Linked DNA regions of Homo sapiens. The protein of the gene in region 5 purifies or fractionates together with the protein of the main gene of each other region. This does not show direct contact. Each region holds a gene or a part of one and is shown on either strand. Other genes may lie near its edges. The genes, in order: NRBP2, OCIAD1, UNC45A, C2orf76, LANCL1 and STK38L.

What was found.
Region 1: the proteins of LANCL1 (region 5) and NRBP2 purify together in Homo sapiens (affinity purification with mass spectrometry; one large-scale study listed by BioGRID and IntAct). This does not show direct contact.
Region 2: the proteins of LANCL1 (region 5) and OCIAD1 purify together in Homo sapiens (affinity purification with mass spectrometry, with the first as the bait; one large-scale study listed by BioGRID). This does not show direct contact.
Region 3: the proteins of LANCL1 (region 5) and UNC45A purify together in Homo sapiens (affinity purification with mass spectrometry, with the first as the bait; one large-scale study listed by BioGRID). This does not show direct contact.
Region 4: the proteins of LANCL1 (region 5) and C2orf76 fractionate together in Homo sapiens (co-fractionation; one large-scale study listed by BioGRID). This does not show direct contact.
Region 6: the proteins of LANCL1 (region 5) and STK38L purify together in Homo sapiens (pull-down; one large-scale study listed by IntAct). This does not show direct contact.

The regions. Positions count from the first base shown.
Region 1 is NC_000008.11:143,833,083-143,835,528, reverse strand, and holds the end of NRBP2 (nuclear receptor-binding protein 2), read left to right. Parts: coding exon of another isoform or gene 1-91; 3' UTR 92-1,946; downstream 1,947-2,446. UniProt on the Homo sapiens protein: May regulate apoptosis of neural progenitor cells during their differentiation.
Region 2 is NC_000004.12:48,851,588-48,855,087, reverse strand, and holds part of OCIAD1 (OCIA domain-containing protein 1), read right to left. Parts: intron 3,283-3,500; coding exon 3,113-3,282; coding exon of another isoform or gene 3,096-3,112; exon of another isoform or gene 2,863-3,095; intron 1-2,862. UniProt on the Homo sapiens protein: Maintains stem cell potency. Increases STAT3 phosphorylation and controls ERK phosphorylation. May act as a scaffold, increasing STAT3 recruitment onto endosomes. Involved in integrin-mediated cancer cell adhesion and colony formation in ovarian cancer.
Region 3 is NC_000015.10:90,948,785-90,952,284, reverse strand, and holds part of UNC45A (protein unc-45 homolog A), read right to left. Parts: coding exon 3,491-3,500; intron 2,970-3,490; coding exon 2,842-2,969; intron 2,632-2,841; coding exon 2,565-2,631; intron 2,132-2,564; coding exon 2,018-2,131; intron 1,786-2,017; coding exon 1,670-1,785; intron 48-1,669; exon of another isoform or gene 1-47.
Region 4 is NC_000002.12:119,360,335-119,363,834, forward strand, and holds part of C2orf76 (UPF0538 protein C2orf76), read right to left. Parts: intron 1-3,500.
Region 5 is NC_000002.12:210,435,260-210,438,759, forward strand, and holds part of LANCL1 (glutathione S-transferase LANCL1), read right to left. Parts: intron 2,614-3,500; coding exon 2,431-2,613; intron 1,134-2,430; coding exon 957-1,133; intron 201-956; coding exon 128-200; intron 1-127. UniProt on the Homo sapiens protein: Functions as a glutathione transferase. Catalyzes conjugation of the glutathione (GSH) to artificial substrates 1-chloro-2,4-dinitrobenzene (CDNB) and p-nitrophenyl acetate.
Region 6 is NC_000012.12:27,313,786-27,317,285, reverse strand, and holds part of STK38L (serine/threonine-protein kinase 38-like), read right to left. Parts: intron 2,783-3,500; coding exon 2,628-2,782; intron 2,272-2,627; coding exon 2,169-2,271; intron 1,998-2,168; coding exon 1,936-1,997; intron 1-1,935. UniProt on the Homo sapiens protein: Involved in the regulation of structural processes in differentiating and mature neuronal cells.

The DNA.
Region 1 (2,446 bases), on a different chromosome or scaffold from region 5:
CCGTCTCCTGAGAGTGGGGCTGACCCTGCCTTGGGCGCCGAGGGGTTGGGGGGTGGGTGTGGGGGAGCCGTTAGGCCTCCCAGGTCCTTAGGATCAGGGTTGCCCCCAGAACCCCTTCCCATATCCTCCATTCTCCGCCCTGAGTTCCTACCCAGGCTGCCTGGCCGGGGCCACTGCCTCCTCAGCATGCAGGAGGCTGCCCTGTAGGGAACCCCAGCTCTGGGGCTTGGGGGTGAGGGTCAGCCCTGGACAGACCTCTGCCCAGGGAACTGCTCCATGGGGTCTGGGAGAGCAGCCATCCCCTGCTGGCACCATAGACCCACACAAGGAGCCTGCACAGCAAGCCAGCGGTGACACACCTGCAGGTGTCAGGCATGGCACTGGGCACAACAGGGACCTGGCAGGAGAAACAGACCACAGAGAGGTCTGGAGTTGAGGCTGTTGTCAGCAAAGCCCCTGGTCCCACACAGCTCTGCCCTAGAGCCACCTCTTTGACCCTTTACCCACCCTGAGACCAGAACTTGCAGCCCCTCTGCAGATCTCCTCTGGCCACTGCAGCCCCTCCAATGGGCTTTTTCTCTCATGCATTCCCTGGCCTGGAGGCGTCAGGGACCCCACATCCTCCCTGCTCCTCAGACTCACAGCCCCTCCATGTTACCTCCCGCACCTCCTCCCTGGGGCAGCTGCTCCCTGGGCCTCTGAGGATGTCAGCTCCTGGCTCCCTGCCTCTCTCCCACTCCACTCCTGGCTCAGTCTTAGAGATTTCTATGCCCTCATGGATTCTACCCCTGCCTTCCTGGCCTCTTGATTCTTGGCTTGCCTCTCCTCCAATTCCAAACTTAGTGAAATGGCCTTAAGCATTTTAAACTGTATGTATACATTAGCGCATTCATGCCTTTCTAAACGCATTTCAAATGTCAACCAGGAAGGCACACCACTGTATTAGTTTTATACTGCCGCTGTAAAATTTACCACAAACTTAGTGACTTAACACAAATTTATTGCAATTCTGTAGGCTGGAAGTCTGACTATGGGTCTCACTGGACTAGAATCAAGGCTGGCAGGCTGCCTTCCTTCCTGGAGGTTCTAGGGGAGACTCTGTCTCCTGCTCCTTCAGGCTGCTGGCAGAATCCACATCCTTTCGGTGGCAGGGCCAAGGTCCCCACTTTCTTGCTGACTGTAAACTAAGGCCACTTCCAGCTTGTAGAGGCTGCCTACATTCCTTGGCTCTTGGCCCCCTCCTCCATCTTCAGAGCTAGCAGGTTCAGTCTGTGTCACGAACCATTTCTCTGGTTCCCTGCAGACAGGAAAGGTTGTCCCTAAGGACTCATGAGATTAGGTTGGGCCCAGCCAGATAATACATGATAATCTCCCTCCTCAAGGTTTTTAATATTAAACACATCTGCAGGACACATTTTGCCATGTAAACTAACATTCACTGGTTCCAGGGATTAAGGAATGAACCTCTTTTGTTGGGGAAGGGTGGCATTCTGCTGACCACAGCACTCCAACCAAAAGCCAAAAACCAAAGCAAGACTTACTAACGCATATCAAATAAATTAAAGGTACAAAATCGTGAATCTCAGTTATCTTAAATATTCCAATACTATTTACAAAATTATTCAAATTCTCACGCCTTCCAACTCAAAATTAGCAATCTAAAGTAATTTCCATATCCTAGATGGAAACCCTCATGCTAAACTGTCTGATTATGCATGGTTCTAAATGGTTTCAGTGGCAAATACATAACATTGTACTACTGATTAAACTGAACTTAAAAGCATCAATACCACCATTGCTGCACTTAATCATGTCTCTGTTGAATTTTTCCTTTTAAATTTTATCTTTTCAGAATTATATATGTATTGTTTTTAAAGTAGAATAGTTTTTTTTTTGAGGCCAATAATAAATAATAAATGCAGGCTCCTACTCTGATCCTCTCCAAATTCAACTCTCTTAACTGTTTCTTCAGGCATTTGAAATCCATGTTTTTCAAAACCATGAGCATGCTTTTAGTCCTGTTTATTCGTTTTTCTACATTAGATGTCCCTGGCTGGCATCCTCTGGGAGGAGGGCGGTCACCTGCCTCAGTCTCCTGGCGGCATCATTCCAGTGTTACGGGCATCATAGCTGCATGGGTGTTATTACAGCTTCATTACCACACGTCTCAGGAGAGAACACGGTGTTCTAGGATGGCATTTCTTGCACAACTTTTTGTTTTCCCTGGAGTTAATAATTGCCTTTTTTTTGGTTTGCCTAGTTTTCTATATGTGTTTGTCATTGATTCATCTTTAGACTTTCCTGAAGAAGCATGAGCATCCTGTCACAGCTTAGGACTCATCACATAACTGACTGCTCAGTTTCTTCTTTTCCTGGAGCCCCCACCATACAAGCCCCCTGCCCAGGCTACTTGTTCTTGGACTTACAGCCCAGTGGTCAGCATGGG
Region 2 (3,500 bases), on a different chromosome or scaffold from region 5:
TATAAAATTCTGGAACAAATAATGAAAATATACATCAGACAGAAGAAGACTGGGGAGAATTTCCCACACTATGGAGAGAACATGATTTACTATTTTGGGAAGGTTATAAAGAACTGGAAGGAATAAAAAAATGTAAAGTGGCACTGATTTAAATCTAACTGTAATAAACTCTAAGTCTCCTAACAGCTCTGAAGGAGTGCTTGCTATTTTAAAAGATTAATAACTCTCTGAATTCCTGGTAAAAGAAAGCAGAACTAAAGTAGGACTTAAACCAAAGAATAAGATGCCCTGGTAGGGGAGGATAGCATCTGGGGCAAAGCAAAAGCAGGCCACTGCTGGCCCATGTGGAGAGCAGTAAAAAAGTAGCCACTTTGATTTAGAGAAGGGGGTCAGAAGGCAGAGCAGTGGATGGATGGATGGCTGCTGTGGAAGGCATAAAATAATATTAAGACATGGCCTTGCTAAGTAGTCTGTGGGTAGATACCAAAGGGCTTTTTGTTTGTTGGCTTTTGTATGGAAAAAAACTATATAACAGAATTTCCTAATGCAAATGGTGGGGAAGATGCAAGTCATCACAAGGAAAGAGTTAGTGCATGTCTAGAATACAGTAGTGCCCCCTTATCTGTGGTTTCGCTTTCCAGGGTTTCAGTTACCTGCAGTCAACCATGGTCTGAAAATATTACATGGAACATTCCAGAAATAAACAGTTCATAAATTTTAAATTACACCCTGTTCTGAGTAGTGTGATAAAATCTTGTGAGGTTCTGCTCTGGTCCATCCAGGACTTGAATCATCCCTTTGTCCAGCATATCCACACTGTCTACACTACATGCCTGTTAGTAACTTAGTAGCCATCTAGATCAAAAAAACATAGAACATAAAGGATTTGGTAATATCTGAGGTTTCAGGCATCCACAGGGGTCTTCGAACTTATCCCCCATGGATAAGGGGGGACTACTGTACAAGAAGAATGGATTTGAACTTCAGACTGGTTAAATGAGACATAGTGAGGAACAAGGACAGCTGCCTTTGGAGATAAGATAGTGACTTTAGCCATTCTCTCCTAATCTGCCCATTCCCTTCCTTCCTTTTCTGACTAATTTGATGCCTTTGCTTCCAACCATTAAAGAAAAAAATAAAAAAATCAGAGTTGAGGATTAAGAAGCTCTCAATAACTTTCATCCAAATTCTTTAATCATCTGAACTTCCATTCTTTCCTGTCTCTTCCTTTATACAAGGCTAATACTCACCCCTTTGCCCCGACTTTTGCTCTTAAGTAGTGCTGTCCAACATAACTTTCTGCAATGATGAAAATGTTCTATATTGGCACTAACACGGTAGCCACTAGCACATGTGACTATTGAGCAAGTGAAATGCTACCAAAGCAATTGAGAAATTGAATTTTAAATTTCATTTAACTTTAATTAATTTAAATAGCCACATATGGCTAGCGGCTACTCTGACCTACCTAGAACCCCCTTCTGCATTCTCTAGAACCTTCTCTGACCTATAATCAACTTCTCCCTTTCCACTGTATACCCTCCCCTCCCTTTAACTTCTTTCCCTCTAATCTTTTAAAATTTAAAGAGTATACTCTACAAAGGTCCATAATCCCTTATCCAAACCTTGGGGTCAGGTATGTTTCACTATTCAAAGTTTCTGAGGTTTTAGAAAAATACTACAGTAAATACCCCTTATATTACTTAATATCCATCCATTCAGAGGTTTAGGACAGGAATGAGTAAGCAAACACATTAATATTTCTATAATGAAATAAAGGAAAAATCTTATCTGGCAAAGTAAATAAAGTCTACGTTTATATAACTTATGTGAATTTAGGTCAGGGTATTCTGCTAAATGAATTCAGGTCAGATTTTATTACCAGTTTAATTATTAAAAAACAAAAACAGGCCGGGGGCAGTGGCTCACACCTGTAATCCCAGCACTTTGGGAGGCCGAGGCGGGCGGATCACGAGGTCAGGAGATCAAGACCATCCTGGCCAACACAGTGAAACCCCATCTCTACTAAAAATACAAAAAATTAGCCGAGCGTGGTGGCGGGCACCTGCAGTCCCAGCTACTCAGGAGACTGAGGCAGAATGGCGTGAAGCTGGGGGGGCGGAGGTTGCAGTGAGCCGAGATCGCACCACTACAGTCCAGACTGGGCGACAGAGCAAGACTCCATCTCAAAAAAAAAAAAAAAAACAAAAAACAAAAAAAAACTTGGCTTAAACCTTTTTGAATTTCAGGATTTTAGATAAAGAATTACAGACCTGTATTTCCCGTTTCTAATTCCTCATCTTTTACTGCCGACTAGACTGAAGGAAAGAAACTAATGTTTTTTGAGTCTATTATTTGCCAGACATTGCCTCTGATTATTTCCTCTAATTCCAACAGTTCATTAAGAGAGGTAGTATCATCTCCATTCAACTGATCAAGAAACTGAAAGGATCATAAAGTAGTTATAATAATATTACTACATTATTATAATGTAGTAGTAGTATTACAAGGTCACATAGCTAGCAAATGTCAATCATGATTCAAATCCAAGCCTTAATACAAAATTGATGTTGTTGCACTTACATGTGTGATCTTCAAAGCTAGTATTTACAAACTTCACAAAGCATTTTCACATGGATTTTCTCACTTGACAACAGTTCTTTCTTGTATTACAGACAGGGAAGCTGAAAGCCTTTAAAACCCAGCCTATCAAATGTAACCTTTTTATACCTTTCCTGGAGCTCTACTTCCTGAGACACGATTTATCATTTCTTCTTCACTATTCCACTAAGCTTGCCTTAGTATTTTCAATTACTGGGACATACTAGTAATTCATCCTTGTATTTCTATATCTTCTAACAGACTGAAAGTTTTTCAGGGACAAGAACCAAGTGTTATTCATCTTCTTCCACGTCTAGCAGAGTCCTTGACACCTACTGGTCCTCAAGAAAAGTTGAATGAATGAAGAAACAAATGAACAAACATGCTGAGTTTAGGTTGATGATTGATGGTAGAACACACAGGTGATATCCAGCAGAAAAGGTCATCAAATAAAGTTTATACATACGTTGGACCATAAAATGTTGAAATTCATTTCAAGAGAAGTTTCTACCTTGGACAATATGATCAGTAATACCAGTGGGAGCAGATTCATTCATAGAAGAACTGAATGGAATTGGCTCATAATGAGGAAGCATTTCTATGTTGTCTGCTGCTGGGGATGTCACAAAAGATGATTGACCACTCACACTTGAGTCATATTTTGACTTTTGATAATAGTGCCTGTAAATGAAAATCATATTGTAGTAAGAAATATGAGTCATTGCCTATATCTTAAAGAAGTGTTAAAATAACTTCTTTCATATAGCTTATTTCCAAAATTATATATACATATAATTTTTTTTATTTTTTTGAGACAGGGTCTTGCTCTGTCACCCAGGCTATAGTGCAGTGACGCAGTCTTGGCTTATTGCAATCTCCACCTCCTAGGCTCAAGCAAT
Region 3 (3,500 bases), on a different chromosome or scaffold from region 5:
AGCCTGTAGAGCCAGGAAGCAATTAAATCTCTTTTCTTTATAAATTACCCAGTCTCAGGTATTCCTTTACAGCAATGCAAGAACAGACTAACACCGGCAGCATCATCAGAGTTTCTACATCTGCTCCACCCCTGCACCCACACCCTCATGCAATCAAGTCCTGGGCTGAGGATTTCCCTTGGCAATGTCCAAGGACCCTCTTGCACCAGGTATGAACTACAGTGCTTCTTAGCCTTCTAACCAGGCCTAGGAAATAGCATAGGATTGTGGGAAATGCTCAAAATTAGGATGTAGAAGACCAGGGTGGTCGTGATGGTGAGGCTAACACCTAACATTTGAGGGTTTTTGTTTCTGTGTTTTTTTGAGGCAGGATCTCACTCTGTCACCTAGGCTGGAGTAAAGTGGCATGATCACAGCTCACTGCTGTAGCCTTGACCCCCCCAGGCTCAAGTGATCCTCCTGCCTCAGCCTCTCGAGTAGCTGGGACTACAGGTGCACGCCACCACACCTTGCAAATTTTTTTTCCAACTGTTAAGTTCAGGGGTACATGTGCAGGACGTGCAGGTTTGTTACACAGGTAACCATGTGCCGTTGTGGTTTACCGCACAGATCATCCCATCACCCAGGTATTAAGCCCAGCATGCATTAGCTATTCTTCCTGATATTCTCTTTAATTTCTTTTTTAAATAGGGACGAGGTATTGCTACACTGCTCAGGCTGGCCTGAACTTCTGGGCTCCAGTGATCCTCCTGCCTCATCCTCCCAAATTGCCAGGATTACAGGTGTGAGCCACCACGCCCGGCCTCATTTGAGTATTTACCCTGACCAGGCACCTGGATCATCTTACTTAATTCTCACCATGGCCCTATACTAAAGGTGCAAGTGTGATCATCATCACTACTGTTTTGCAGAATAGGAAACGGGCTAAGTAATGAGTAATATGTTCAAAGTCACAGTTAGTAATAAAACTAAAACATGCTGGCCAGCTGCAGTGGCTCACACCTGTAATCCCAGCACTTTGGGAGGCTGAGGTGGGCGGATCACGAGGTCAGGAGATCTAGACCAGCCTGACCAACATGGTAAAGCGCCATCTCTACAAAAATACAAAAATTAGCCAGGCGCGGTAGCACGTGCCTATAATCCCAGCTACTCAGGAGGCTGAGGCAGGAGAATCGCTTGAACCTGGGAGGCAGAGGTTGCGGTGAGCTGAGATCATGCCACTGCCCTCTAGGCTGGGTGACAGAGCAAGACTCCGTCTCAAAGAAAAAAAAAAACTAAAATATACTGATATGGCACAATGCTAGGGGCCAGGTACCCATGTAGTAAGTACTTTTAGGTGTATTTTCTCATTTTATTCTCCTCATCACTATGCCATGAGGTAGGTACTATAATCATCCCATTTCACAGAGGGAGAAACTGAGACAGAGCAGTTAAGTAACTTGCTTGAGGTTGCCCATTTGCAATCAGGGAAGCGAGGCAGTCTGACTCTAGAGTCTGCCGTGCCGTGCTGCCTCTTGGCCTGTCGCCTCCTCTCTAATGATGCGGAGCAGTCACTGTGAGGCTCACAGAAGCCCATGACCAAGGAGTGTTTCCCAATGTGTAAACTGCTGTGGGGGATATTCCGAATCCCGATGCCTGGTCCAGGCCCCGCAATCCCAAGGGACCTTACCGGAGCCTCTCGCTGATCCCAGCCAGGTTTGTTAGGGCCATGAGCGCCTCGAAGTTCTGCAGGCCTGAGCAGTTGAGGTGCAACAGGGAGACGAGGGGCCGGACCACCTCATAGATCTGCAATGTGCACCCCACCTGTCAGGGGTACTTGCCGCAGCCCCCACAAGCCCCACCAACCCTGCAGGGAGAAGCCCACCCCCAAGAGAGTACTGCTGTCTCAGGCTGTCCTCCCTGCCCCAGGCCTTGACAAAGCTGAAACTTCCTGCTGGTCCCAAAGGGGAGCTACAGCCCAGCCCACAGGCCATCAGGGACAGAGGGAGTGGAAAGGCCGGGGCAGGAAGACACGTACCCGCTCGCCAGGGAAGGTCATCTCCGGGTTGGAGGTGATGGTGAGCTTGGCAAGGGCCTGGGCTGCCTTTGTCTGCCCCACGTCCGTGCCTTCCAGGGCCAGCGGGATCAGCGCCTGTAGGAACAAGCCCGTCACTGCTCAGGACATCCCTGGGAGTAAGACCCCGACCATCGGGCTCCCCAGCCCTGACCGTGCCACCCTCACCTTCCTCCCTCTCCCCAGGCTTGACTCCCTGTGCAGACCCTCTGCATCCAAACACTTCCTGAAACACCTAATAAGGGCTGGACATGGATTGTGCTGAGCACCAGGGCCATGGGGGTAAATGAGACAAAGGAACAGTAGAGCCTAGGACCTTCACAGGCACCAGTGTGGAGGGGCCAAGGAGCTTGCCTGCTTCCGCGTCACTCTCTCAGCGGGACGGTGTTCCTCTGGCCATTAATGTTTTTCTGTTCCATATCTAACACCCAGCTCTGGCGTGGCAGCTGCTGAGTCATGTTTTATAGGCTGATGGCTCAGCCATCAGGAAGGGGTGTGTAAACCAGCTTACCCTGCCGCCTCCCTGGGCAACCACAGTGCCTCGGTCCTCTACCTCTTCCACTAAAGCCAAGAAGACCCTGTGGGGAGAAGGCGGTGGTGGGCAGGCAGCTCTGGGACTCTGGCAGGCAGACGCTGCACTCCTAGGCTCAGCAAAGACGGCAGCCACGCAGGCAGCCCCCGTCGCTCTAAGAGGCCCACAGCACTGGAACCTGCACCCTCTGGAGCCACATCTGCAGCCCTGAGGCTCAGGAGTTGGGAAAGGTTGGCTCCTACCAAGGCTGGCTCACCTGGAGAGCAGCTCTCTGCAGGAACTGGTCAGCACAGGGCTCTCCGTCTTCACCATGCACACCATGGCCGACACCACACCCGCTGCCAGCAGCTTCTTCACCCGAGCCCGCACGAAGCTTGGCTTGTCCTGGGGGAGGAGGCAGCTTAGGAGAGGGGCCTAGGCTGACTCACAGAGAAAGGGGGACCCTTCTCACAGCAGTAATTGAGGAACTGGGAAATAAAACAGCCAGACAAAAGGAAACAAACTGGCTTAAAAGGGAGGCTGTTGGCTGGGCACGGTGGCTCACACCTGTAATCCCAGCACTTTGGGAGGCTGAGGCAGGCGGATCACGAGGTCAGGAGATCGAGATCATCCTGGCTAACACGGTGAAACACTGTCTCCACTAAAAATACAAAAAATTAGCCAGGCATGGTGGCGGGCACCTGTAGTCCCAGCTACTCGGGAGGCTGAGGCAGGAGAATGGCATGAACCCGGGAGGCGGAGCTTGCAGTGAGCCGAGATCGCATCACTGCACTCCAGCCTGGGAGACAGTGAGACTCCATCTCAAAAAAAAAAAAAAAAAAAAAGGGAGGTTGTTCTGCTGTGGATGCCCTGGGTTAGCTGTCCCCATGGTGGGGAACCCTCTAGCCCCTCTGGCGGCCCCTCACCTTGGGGTGC
Region 4 (3,500 bases), about 91 Mb from region 5:
GGTGTGGTGGCACATGCCTGCAATCCCAGCTATTCAGGAGGCTGGGGCAGGAGAATCGCTTGAACCTGGGAGGCAGAAGTTGCAGTGAGCTGAGACTGCACCATTGCACTCCAGCCTGGGCAACGAGAGCAAAACTCTGTCTCAAAAAAAAAAAAAAAAAAAAAAAGATATATACACCTGTTTGACATAATGCTATTGCACACTTTATAACAGACTATACGTATAGTGTAAACATAACTTGTATATGCACTGGAAAACCAAAAAACTGTGACTCATTTTGCTGTGATCATCATTTTATGTCAGTGGTCTGTGACCAAACCTGCAATATCTCTGAGGTATGCCTGTAGACAAGTGATTGGCAGCAGCTTAATTCATAATAGCCAAAAAGTGGAAACAATAGCAATAGCCTTCAAAGAGTGAATGGTTAAACTCTTTCATCTATATGATGGAATAGTACTCAGGGATAAAAAAGAACAAAACTATCATTCACTCAACAAGCTAGATGAATCACCACAGAATTATTCTGAGTGAAGAAAAAACAATACAAAAAGGCTATATACCACAATTTCATGATATATAACATTATTGAAATGATAAAATTATAGAAATAGAGAAGAAAGTTGTGGTTGCCAGGGGCTAAGGAGGAGCTAGGTAGTGGTTGTGGCCACAAGGCAGTATTAGGAATCTTTGATGATGGAAATATTGTTACCTTACTTAAATGTATCAATGTCAATGTATTGATTGTGTTATGTATTCTATATGGTTTTGCAAGATGTTACCACTGGGAGAAACTAGGTAAGATGTACAAGAGATCTCTCTAGGCTACAGTAGTCCTCACTTACAGTTCCACTTTTGATGGTTTGAACCCAAAATGGGTTTCGTGGGTTTGTTACCCACGGCCAACCACTGTCCAAAAATATTAAATGAAAAATTCCAGAAGTAAACACTCACACTTTTATTACAATATATGGTGATAACTGTTCAATTTTATTATTATTTTGTTACTCTCTTACTGTGCCTAATTTAAAACTCAAATTTTATTATAGATATGTATGTACAGTCAGCCCTCCATATCTGTGGGTTCTGCCTTTGCAGACTCAACCAACTTCAGGTGAAAATATCCTGGGAAGAAAACGATAAAAAAATACGGATACACACACAAAAAAATTGTAAAATACAGTATCACAACTATTTATATAGCATTTACATTGTATCTAGTATTATAAGTAACCTAGAGATTATTTAAAGTATACAGAAGAATGTGCATAAGTTACATGCAAATACATCATTTTATATAAGGGACTTGAGCATCCATGGATTTTTGGCATCCATAGGAGGTCATGGAACCAATCCCCCACAGATATTGACAGACAACCATGTAGGAAAAAACATATATAGGGTTCAGGCCTCCATTGGGGGGGTCTTGGAATTTAGCCTCTGAGGATAAGGAGGGACTACTATATTTTTTATAACCGCACGTCAATCTATATAGTTAGCTCAAAATAGTGTTTTTTTGAACAACATTGCCCTTTGAAGGAATTATTAGCCAAAGCATGTCAGCAGATCTTTTTTTCTTTGAGGCAGGGTCTCTCCCTGTTGCCTAGGCTGGAGTGTAGTGGCAGGATTATACCTCACTGCAGCCTTGTCACCAGATTTTAATACAGTGGCGTTTTGAACAATAGGAGTCCAACTTCTATTTTTTTCCACCTCTGCCATCCCTGAGAAAGACCAACCCTTCCTCTTCCTCCTCAGCCTACTCAGTGTGAAGATGACAAGTCTGAAGACCTTTATGATCTACTTCCACTTACTGAACAGTAAATAATTTTCTCTTCCTTGTGATTCTAGTAACATTCTTTTCTAGTTTACTTTTAAAAATACAGTAAATAATACATATAACATATAAAATGTGTTAATCAACTGTTTGTTATCAGTAAGACTTCGAATCAACAGTAGGCTATTAATAGTTAAGTTTTAGGGTAGTCAAAAGTTACACACAGATTTTTGACTGTGTGGAAGGTCAGTGCCCCTAACCCCTGTGTTGTTCAAGGGTCAGCTGTATTTCTAATTTTCTTGTTGACAGGCAGAAGAGTTTACTAAGAAAATTCACCTCTAACAATCTAGTTTCAAGGCATTTTCCAGGTGGTTTGTCATGTGCAGCTAGGAGCTAAATAGGCAAAGATGTAGAAGACAATGTAGATTTAGAAGAGAATATATAACACATTTTTATTAAAGTATGAAGTTGAACAAGAACTCAGTACTGAACTCAAGATATTTTCATTATTCCTGCCCATAATCATGAATGCTTCTAAACAGAGCGCAGGCAGCACCTGACCAGTGTATGACCAACTCATGGAGAAGCAATTCTAAAGGAAGTCCTGTCTTCCTTACTTCCAGCCAGCCTAGGATACTTCCCTATCAGAATCTTCCACTCCCAAGCCATCTCTGCAGCTCACCTCAGCCCTAACCACCCCCAGCCCAAGTTGGCTAGGCAAAAAGAAGAGGAAGAAGAAAATGGTAAACATGTGCATGCCACACCTGTTTACTCTTCTCTCCTGCCCGCCTTGCCACAATTCCTCTGAAGACGAACACCCAAAGGAAGGAGAGGGTAGGAATGGCACAGGACTTGCTAACACCTCCAGCTGCCAGGCCTCCTCTCACCAGTTATGAGGAAAGCCAGGCTTCATTCTTACCCCACCCCCACCAACTCTCACCTCCCTCAGCCTTCACAAAAAAACTCCACCCATACCTCCCCAATCCTATCCAGAAGCATTTCCAAAGTCCCTTCTTCCCTTTAAAACTAGTCTCCTGGGCCAGGCGACATGGCTCACGCCTGTAATCTCAGCACTTTGGGAGGCCGAGACGGGCGGATCACGAGGTCAGGAGATCGAGACCAACCTGGCTAACACAGTGAAACCCCGTCTCTACCCAAAATACAAAAAATTAGCCGGGCGTGGTGGCGGGCACCCATAGTCCCAGCTACTCGGGAGGCTGAGGCAGGAGAATGGCGTGAACCCGGGAGGCGGAGCTTGCAGTGAGCCGAGATCGCACCACTACACTCCAGCCTGGGCGACAGAGCAAGACTCTGTCTCAAAAAAAAAAAAGGCAAAAAAAAAAAACTAGTCTCCTCCAGCTCTGCTGAAGCCCTGCCACAGGAGTCACATTCCAAGTAACCGGAAAGAAAATACAGAATGAATGTAATCCATCATTTGTGGATACCCTAACCCTCGCCTTATAGTAACTCTAGTTACTAGAGCAACTAGGAAGCTCTCCTGAAATCGTAGTTCATTTTCTGGTGATTAGGTTACTTTCAGAAATTAGAGGTTTCATTTATACTAAGAAACTTAATATGAAACTACTATTCCCACCTAATGAGCAAGAAATGCTTTCACTTATTAATATATCTTGCCAGGGCGAGGCACAGTGGCTTAGGCCTGTAATCCCAGCATCCTGGGAGGTCGAGGCAGAGGGATCACTTGAGCTCAGGAGTTCAAGACCAACCC
Region 5 (3,500 bases):
ATTAGGAAATAAAAAAGTAGTTTAAGAATAATTATAAAATTTTTTGCTAAAACTTAAATACATTAATTACCAAGCAGAGAAGTAGATGCTGATATTATAGGGCAAATAAATAAAGTGTACAAAATACCTTCAAAGAGAGAGAAAGGGGTGTCTGGTGTTCTGCATCCATGTTCTCCATACTCTAAGCACCATTCAGCAAACTGAAAATGAGACCAAGTTAAATTAGTATAGTGATTTCTTCCAGAGACAACCCCAAAAGTTAAGAGGTTGTCTATACAAATTACTCTGAAAAATCAAACACTACCTTCACATCAGAGAAAGGAGATTAATGCAGAGAAAAGGATGGTTTGAAAGAGTACACAGCATGGGAGGAATTTAATGAGCTGTCTGAGTCACGTATCTACAAGGTTATTCAAGAAGAAAGGCACAAAATCACCCTACATCTTTATTTTTTTCTCCCATTAATGCTGTTGAGTAGAATTATGTCCCTTTAAAGGAATGCTAATTTAATTGAAAGGCTTTTCAAGGTTTTCCTTAAATAACTGTATTTGTTATCCAAGACCTATGGTTTTAGGGATAAATGAATTAAATCAGATGAACTAGAACTCTTTCTACAACCTCCTGGGAGACCTGCTTTTTTTTTTTTTTTTTTTTTTTTTGAGATGGAGTTTCACTCTTGTCACCCAGGCTGGAGTACAATGGTGTGATCTTGGCTCACTGCAACCTCTGCCTCCCGGGTTCAAGTGATTCTTGTGCCTCAGCCTCCAAAGTAGCTGGGATTATAGGCGCCTGCCACCACACCTGGCTAATTTTTTGTCATTTTAGTAGACCATGTTAGCCAGGCTGGTCTCGAACTCCTGACCTCAGGTGATCCGCCTGCCTCAGCCTCCCAAAGTGCTGAGATTTACAGGTGTGAGCCACCGAGCTGCTTTCTATTTGGTGGTTCTGACTCCTACCTTACAGGCCCTATACAGGTACTTCATGTCCTGTGTGAGGTTGTAGAGTGTCAGGAAGGCATAGGCATTCCCTGCAGAACCGTGGCACAGCCCATATCCCTTCTTCAGCAACCCATATTGCCAGATCACATCAGCACACTGATAGGCATCACAGAGATACTTTTCCTCTCTGAATACCTGCAGAGGCAAAGGACACATTTTATTATACGGGATATAAAAGAAAGTTCCATTGATATTCCTTCCTGATAGATAAGAAGGAAAGAGGGAGATGGCTTGGCAAGAAAGGGTAAAGGATTTAGTGACAGAGGGATGTGTTATGTTGCTAGTGACAATTACTAAAATCGACTAGTTTGGCTTTAAAAAAAACTGTGCATGACTTTGGCATGTACAGTCTAAGTTTTCTGCACATGTGTGTATGTTTATGTGGGTGTTACTGAGGAAGCAGCATTATTTAACTTGCAACTTGCTCTTATCATGAGTGACTTTCCAAAGAACACATGCTATCTTCTTTGTAACTCTGATGCCCTCTTCACTATTAGGAAGTTTCTTTACACACTGGAGAAGAACAACTGTTCTTTATTAAATATGCAGTCAGAAAAATAGAGATAGACCTTTACAATCTTTTACTGCCTCCTATATCTTCATCAAAGACTTAGGAAATATTCTGAGTAGATATTTTTAATATCTCATTGCAACCTAAGTGTTCTTAAAAGTAGGATAAGGCAGTTTAAAAAGTTTTTCTATTATTAACATATCTAATTCTCTGAAATGTAGAATATGATACACTAAAAGCTTATTTATGAGATGCCAGCGCCCAGCGATAGTCTGCAGAGTTGTAATTTGTTGATTTGGCACCAATGGTCATAGATATCTTTTTTTTTCTCAACTAAAAATCTGCGTTGATTGCAGTTCTGTGAAGGCATGCTTTCTATTAGTGTTATTTATGCACTACAATGGAATCATACAATATTTGTCCTTTTATATCTATTTATTTCACTTAGCATGTTTTCAAGGTTCATCCATGTTGTAATATGTATCAGAAAGTCATTCTTTTAATAGCAGAATAATAATCCATTGCATTGTGATATGTTCCATTGTATATATGACATTTTATCAATTCATCTGTTGATGAATACTTGGATTATTTTCACCTGTGGCAATTATAAATAATGCCGTTATGAATGCTTGGTTTTGGTTCTTTCGAGTACACACCTAGGAGTGGAATTGCTAGATAATATGCTGGATCATAAACAATATCTCATTGCAACCTAAGTGTTGTTAAAAGTAGGATATGAAACAATGGCTGCTATGGTACAGATAGATGGTGAGAATGAATTATAATTCATTTAGTAAAGTGATCTTAGGTCCCACAAGAGATTTATTTATTGTTCCTTTATGGATTAGGATAAAACTAATTTTAAATTATAAATTTTTGGTTATTTAAAAAAATTTATTTCAAAAATACACACAGTACCTTATAGGCCTGGATGAGCATGTAGATTACCCCAGGGGCGCCATGGCACCAATGGACAAGCAGATCTCGATTATCACCTATACATGGAGGGTAATTGCCAGAAGGGAATTTCAGCTGGCAGACGTAGTCTACACTGGGCTTGACCAAACTATGTAACTTCCCTTGGCTCACTTGAAGGCTGGGCTAAAAATGAGAAGGAAATTATTAGTTCTGCTGAAGCAAATAAACCTTCCTAGGTCTCAGTATATTTAAACCAGAAAAAAAGCATGGCTAAGGGGAAATGGAAGGTCATTAAGAGGTTTTGGATTTCATCCAATTTTTCCACCTATTGGATGCCTTTATTTTAAGCTTTTGTGATTTCATTTAAAAATTTTAAACAATGGGACAAAGTAAAATTGCTATCAGTTAACTCTTAGGGCCTTTTGTATATATGGTTTTTCTTTCTTTTTTTTTTTTTTTTTTGAGATGGAGTTTCACTCTTGTCACCCAGGCTGAAGTGCAATGGTGCGATCTTGGCTCCCTGCAACCTCCACCTCCCGGGTTCAAGTGATTGTCCTGTCTCAGCCTCCCAAGTACTTGGGATTACAGATGCCTGTCACCACGCCTGGCTAATTTTTGTGTTTTTAGTAAAGACGGGGTTTCACCATGTTGGCCAGGCTGGTTTTGAATTCCTGACCTCAGATGATCCGCCCACCTTGGCCTCCCAAAGTGCTGGGATAACAGGCATGAGCCACTGTGCTCGGCATTTTGTATATATTGTTTTTCAATATTAATTGCTATCTACATACATATAAATAATTTTCCTAAGTCAATGCCTATGAATGTGAGTGTAAGAGAAGTTTCTCATGGTTTCAATATATAAAACAAGCTTTAAAAGTCACAAAGAGATGCACTGGACAAACCAAGCATGACTTTCGTTATTACATTTAGAGAAGAGATAGGTGGTATTTTCAATAGAAAAAGGATACTAACAAGTTAAGAGACCTGGAATCTAGATTCCAAACTACAGCATGCCTCTAGATCAAGTCTTTTTGCAGAGGATTTAGGACTGATCTAAATGCCACATTATT
Region 6 (3,500 bases), on a different chromosome or scaffold from region 5:
CTATCTGAGGATGGCTTACTACTGGAAAAAGCAATATATAGAGGAGTTAAATTTTCACTTGTATTTATTTTGCATGTTTATCATGTGCAAGGCTTAGTGGTAGGTAGTGAGTCAGATAATATGTTATAGACTACTATTTTTCAGTCTATTTACTTTCCTGAGGGAATGCTGAATTAGTTTTCCTTTCATCACTTAGTTGAACAAATATTTATAGAGTGTCCATATGTGCCAGGCATTTTATAAGAATATATCATTTCTGCCCCCACAAGAAGCTCAGTTAAGTTATTTATATATATAGCCTTCAGTCTATTTCAAAAAGAATGAAAAAGTTGAACCTAGAAGACCTGGCTTCCCCACTCACTACTAATGTGTTCTTGGGCAAATTATTCAATTTCTCTGAGGCTCAGCTTCTGCTTACATAAAACTAGAATAATAATACCTGCCCTAATAGAGTTGATATGAAGATGAAACAATAAACGGCATGTGTTTTGTAAACTACAAACTACAAAAATAAGCATGAGGTATTTTCATTATAAATGTAATTCCAGGGTACTGCTTATCCTTTAGGAAGCTATGCAGTTTTTAATTCTTAATTCATATAAAATCTTACAAAAATGATTTCTACAAGGCAGTAATTCTCAACCAGGGGTAGTACTCTTGGGGCCATGGCAAAATGTAGGACCACAGATTTTGTCATCTCAGTGACATAACTGGCATTTACAGGGCAGGGGATCCAGGTGCTAAAGAAATTTCCTGCCCCAAACACTGAGTCCTCTCTACTTCTCCCTTGGGAAACACTCGATCTAAGGCTTGGCAACTACTGGCCATGAGAATAATAAAACACACACCTGAGTAATCACCCATGAATATTTTGTAAATAGGGGGGTACAGAATTCCCCCACCATAATTTTGAGCAGTATTCAGTTTTTCCCCTTTAAAAATAGGGAATATTGCAATTATTCTCAATTGCAAAACCTGATCTAAAATGGACACATTTTAAAAGTAGAACAAAGTTTTTCTCCTTAATGTGTAACTCAATACATTTAAAAATACTGAAATGTTTTACAAGTTTTTGCAGTTACTTAGGTTAATGAGATAATAAGCTCAATAATGCAAAGGTCATTTTATTTGGTTTTAGAGGGTATTAGCCTATTATTTTTCAGTCTGTTTACTTTCCTGAGGGAATGCTGAATTAGTTTTCCTTTCATCATTTGGTTGAACAAGTATTTATAGAGTGTCCGTATGTGCCAGGCATTTTATAAGAAATGAGAAAAAGAAAATCCTAAGGCACATTCTTAACCTGTAGACTGTTGATGGACCATGTTAACAGGACAAAGGGAAAGAGGAGAAAGGGGAAGCAATTCTTCTATTTGCTCAGTTATAGAAAGGAAATAGTATGGGGTTAAAAATAATGTAATTCTATATTAAAGGAGTAATTAAATTTATCTGTGGCAAAGCCAGCTTTTTCAAATTTTATCTGTTTTATTGTAACACTGTTTACATCCCAAACTTCCTGTTTACTTTGTCTATAAAGAAGTTTTTAGAAACTCACAACCACCTTACTTGCTGATTGATATTTGTTGTATCAGGATTTGTAACACAGTTATGAAAAATGGAAAAATGGAAATCACAAGGCATTCATTACAATTGCATTCACCTCAGTGAGTTTTATTTAAAGTGCTAATTACTAGTAAACAGCTTACTTGTAGGTATGCTCAGTAAACTACTCTAAAGTTACAAAGTAAAAACCAACACTTTGCTTTACAGGCAAGGAAACTTAACAGAGAAACTAAGAAAACTGTGTGATCCCAGAGCAAGCGCTACCATTGTTATGAAGTAAATACTAATTATTATAAAGATAAAAATAATCAAGTTAAAACCAGGTAAGATTTTAGAACCAAGGCATAAAATTCTCTTAAAAACTGGTTGACTCACCAGTTGTCTCCTGTTCTTCTTCCAAGTTTCTGCTTTCCTCTTTGAGTTCATGTTCTGAAATGCTAATTTCAACAATATGGAATTGTAATCACGAGGGAAAAATGCTCTCCACAAAAAGAAAATACATATACATCTAAAACACAGTGGATTAAGGAGTGGGGAAAGGGAAAGAACCTTCTGTTCTCTACAGTATCTTAACCAGGGGAAAGAAGAAAAACAACAACCAAACTTACAGAAGTCACTTGGTGGGTTGTGTGTGAGATTTCTATAAAATTCAGTCCTGTGAGCTTTCTTTAATCCCGTACATAAACCAAAATCAGATAATTTTACATGACCCTAAAAAAAAATCCAGTAAAATTAGATCATATTAACTTTGAAAACAAAAAGCCTTGTTATAAACTCCTCTATTAAATGGCAATTATAATAAAAATTCTTAGCTTGGGATTTATACACGTAAAATGTAAAATTTTAAGTATCTGATGATGATTTTTAAAAGTAGAAAATGGAGGGAGATAAAAAGAGAGCCATATTCCCTGTTGTCATTTAATTCCCAAGTCCTCTCCTAGTACCTTATCATATAATGTTGTTTAGCAATATTCTAAATTGCAGTTGCTGATTTCCATTCACAAAATCAGCCCTACTGCTCTAAAAAATAATCAACAGCCTAGTAATTCACCAGTTTATTCACATGCCTTGGCATCCAATAAAAGGTTGTCTGGCTTAATATCCCGATGGATGAAACCCAACTGGTGGATCGCATCTATTGCCAGAACAGTCTCTGAAATGTAGAACTGTGTTTCCTCTTCTGTCAAGGTGTCTTTCTTCATTAGCAATGTCATCATGTCACCTAAATAAAGGATAGTCAAATATATTATTATTGAAAATGCCTCAAAGGTGGAATACCTTGTAAAAGCTTTCCTGCTTTTTTTACTTTTTTTTTTTTTTTTTTGGAGACAGAGTCTCACTCTGTTGCCTGGGTTGGAGTGCAGTGGTGTGATCATGGCTCACTGCAACCTCCGCCTCCTGGGTTCAAACAGTTTTCATGCCTCAGCCACCCAAGTAGCTGAGATTACAGGTGTGCACCACCACACCCAGCTAATTTTTGTATTTTTAGTAGAGATGGGGTTTTGCCATGTTGGCCAGGCTGGTCTCAAACTCCTGGTTTCAAGCTATCTGCCTGCCTTGGCCTCCCAAAGTACTGGGATTACAGGCATGAGCCACCATGCCCAGCTAGCTTTCCTGAGTTTGCATTTTATGATCTACCCAGTATATTTCTAACCACATCTTGGGACAAATAAAAGTGCTATTGCATAGCAGAAGTTTCATGACTTTTAATGGTTTTAAGGCAGAGACCATGTGAAATCAAATCACAAAAGAGCTGATAATGAAGTAATATCTACCACTCAACTTCTAGAATTAACTGCTGAGGAAAATGTCAAACTGCAAAAAAATCAGAATAAGTGCACCTGGAAACGAAATATATTCTTTTAGAGTTTAGTGGGACATTATCCCACTAAAAAAGGCACCTGCAGACATTCTTTTATTTTCAAGGAATTTTAAAAGTT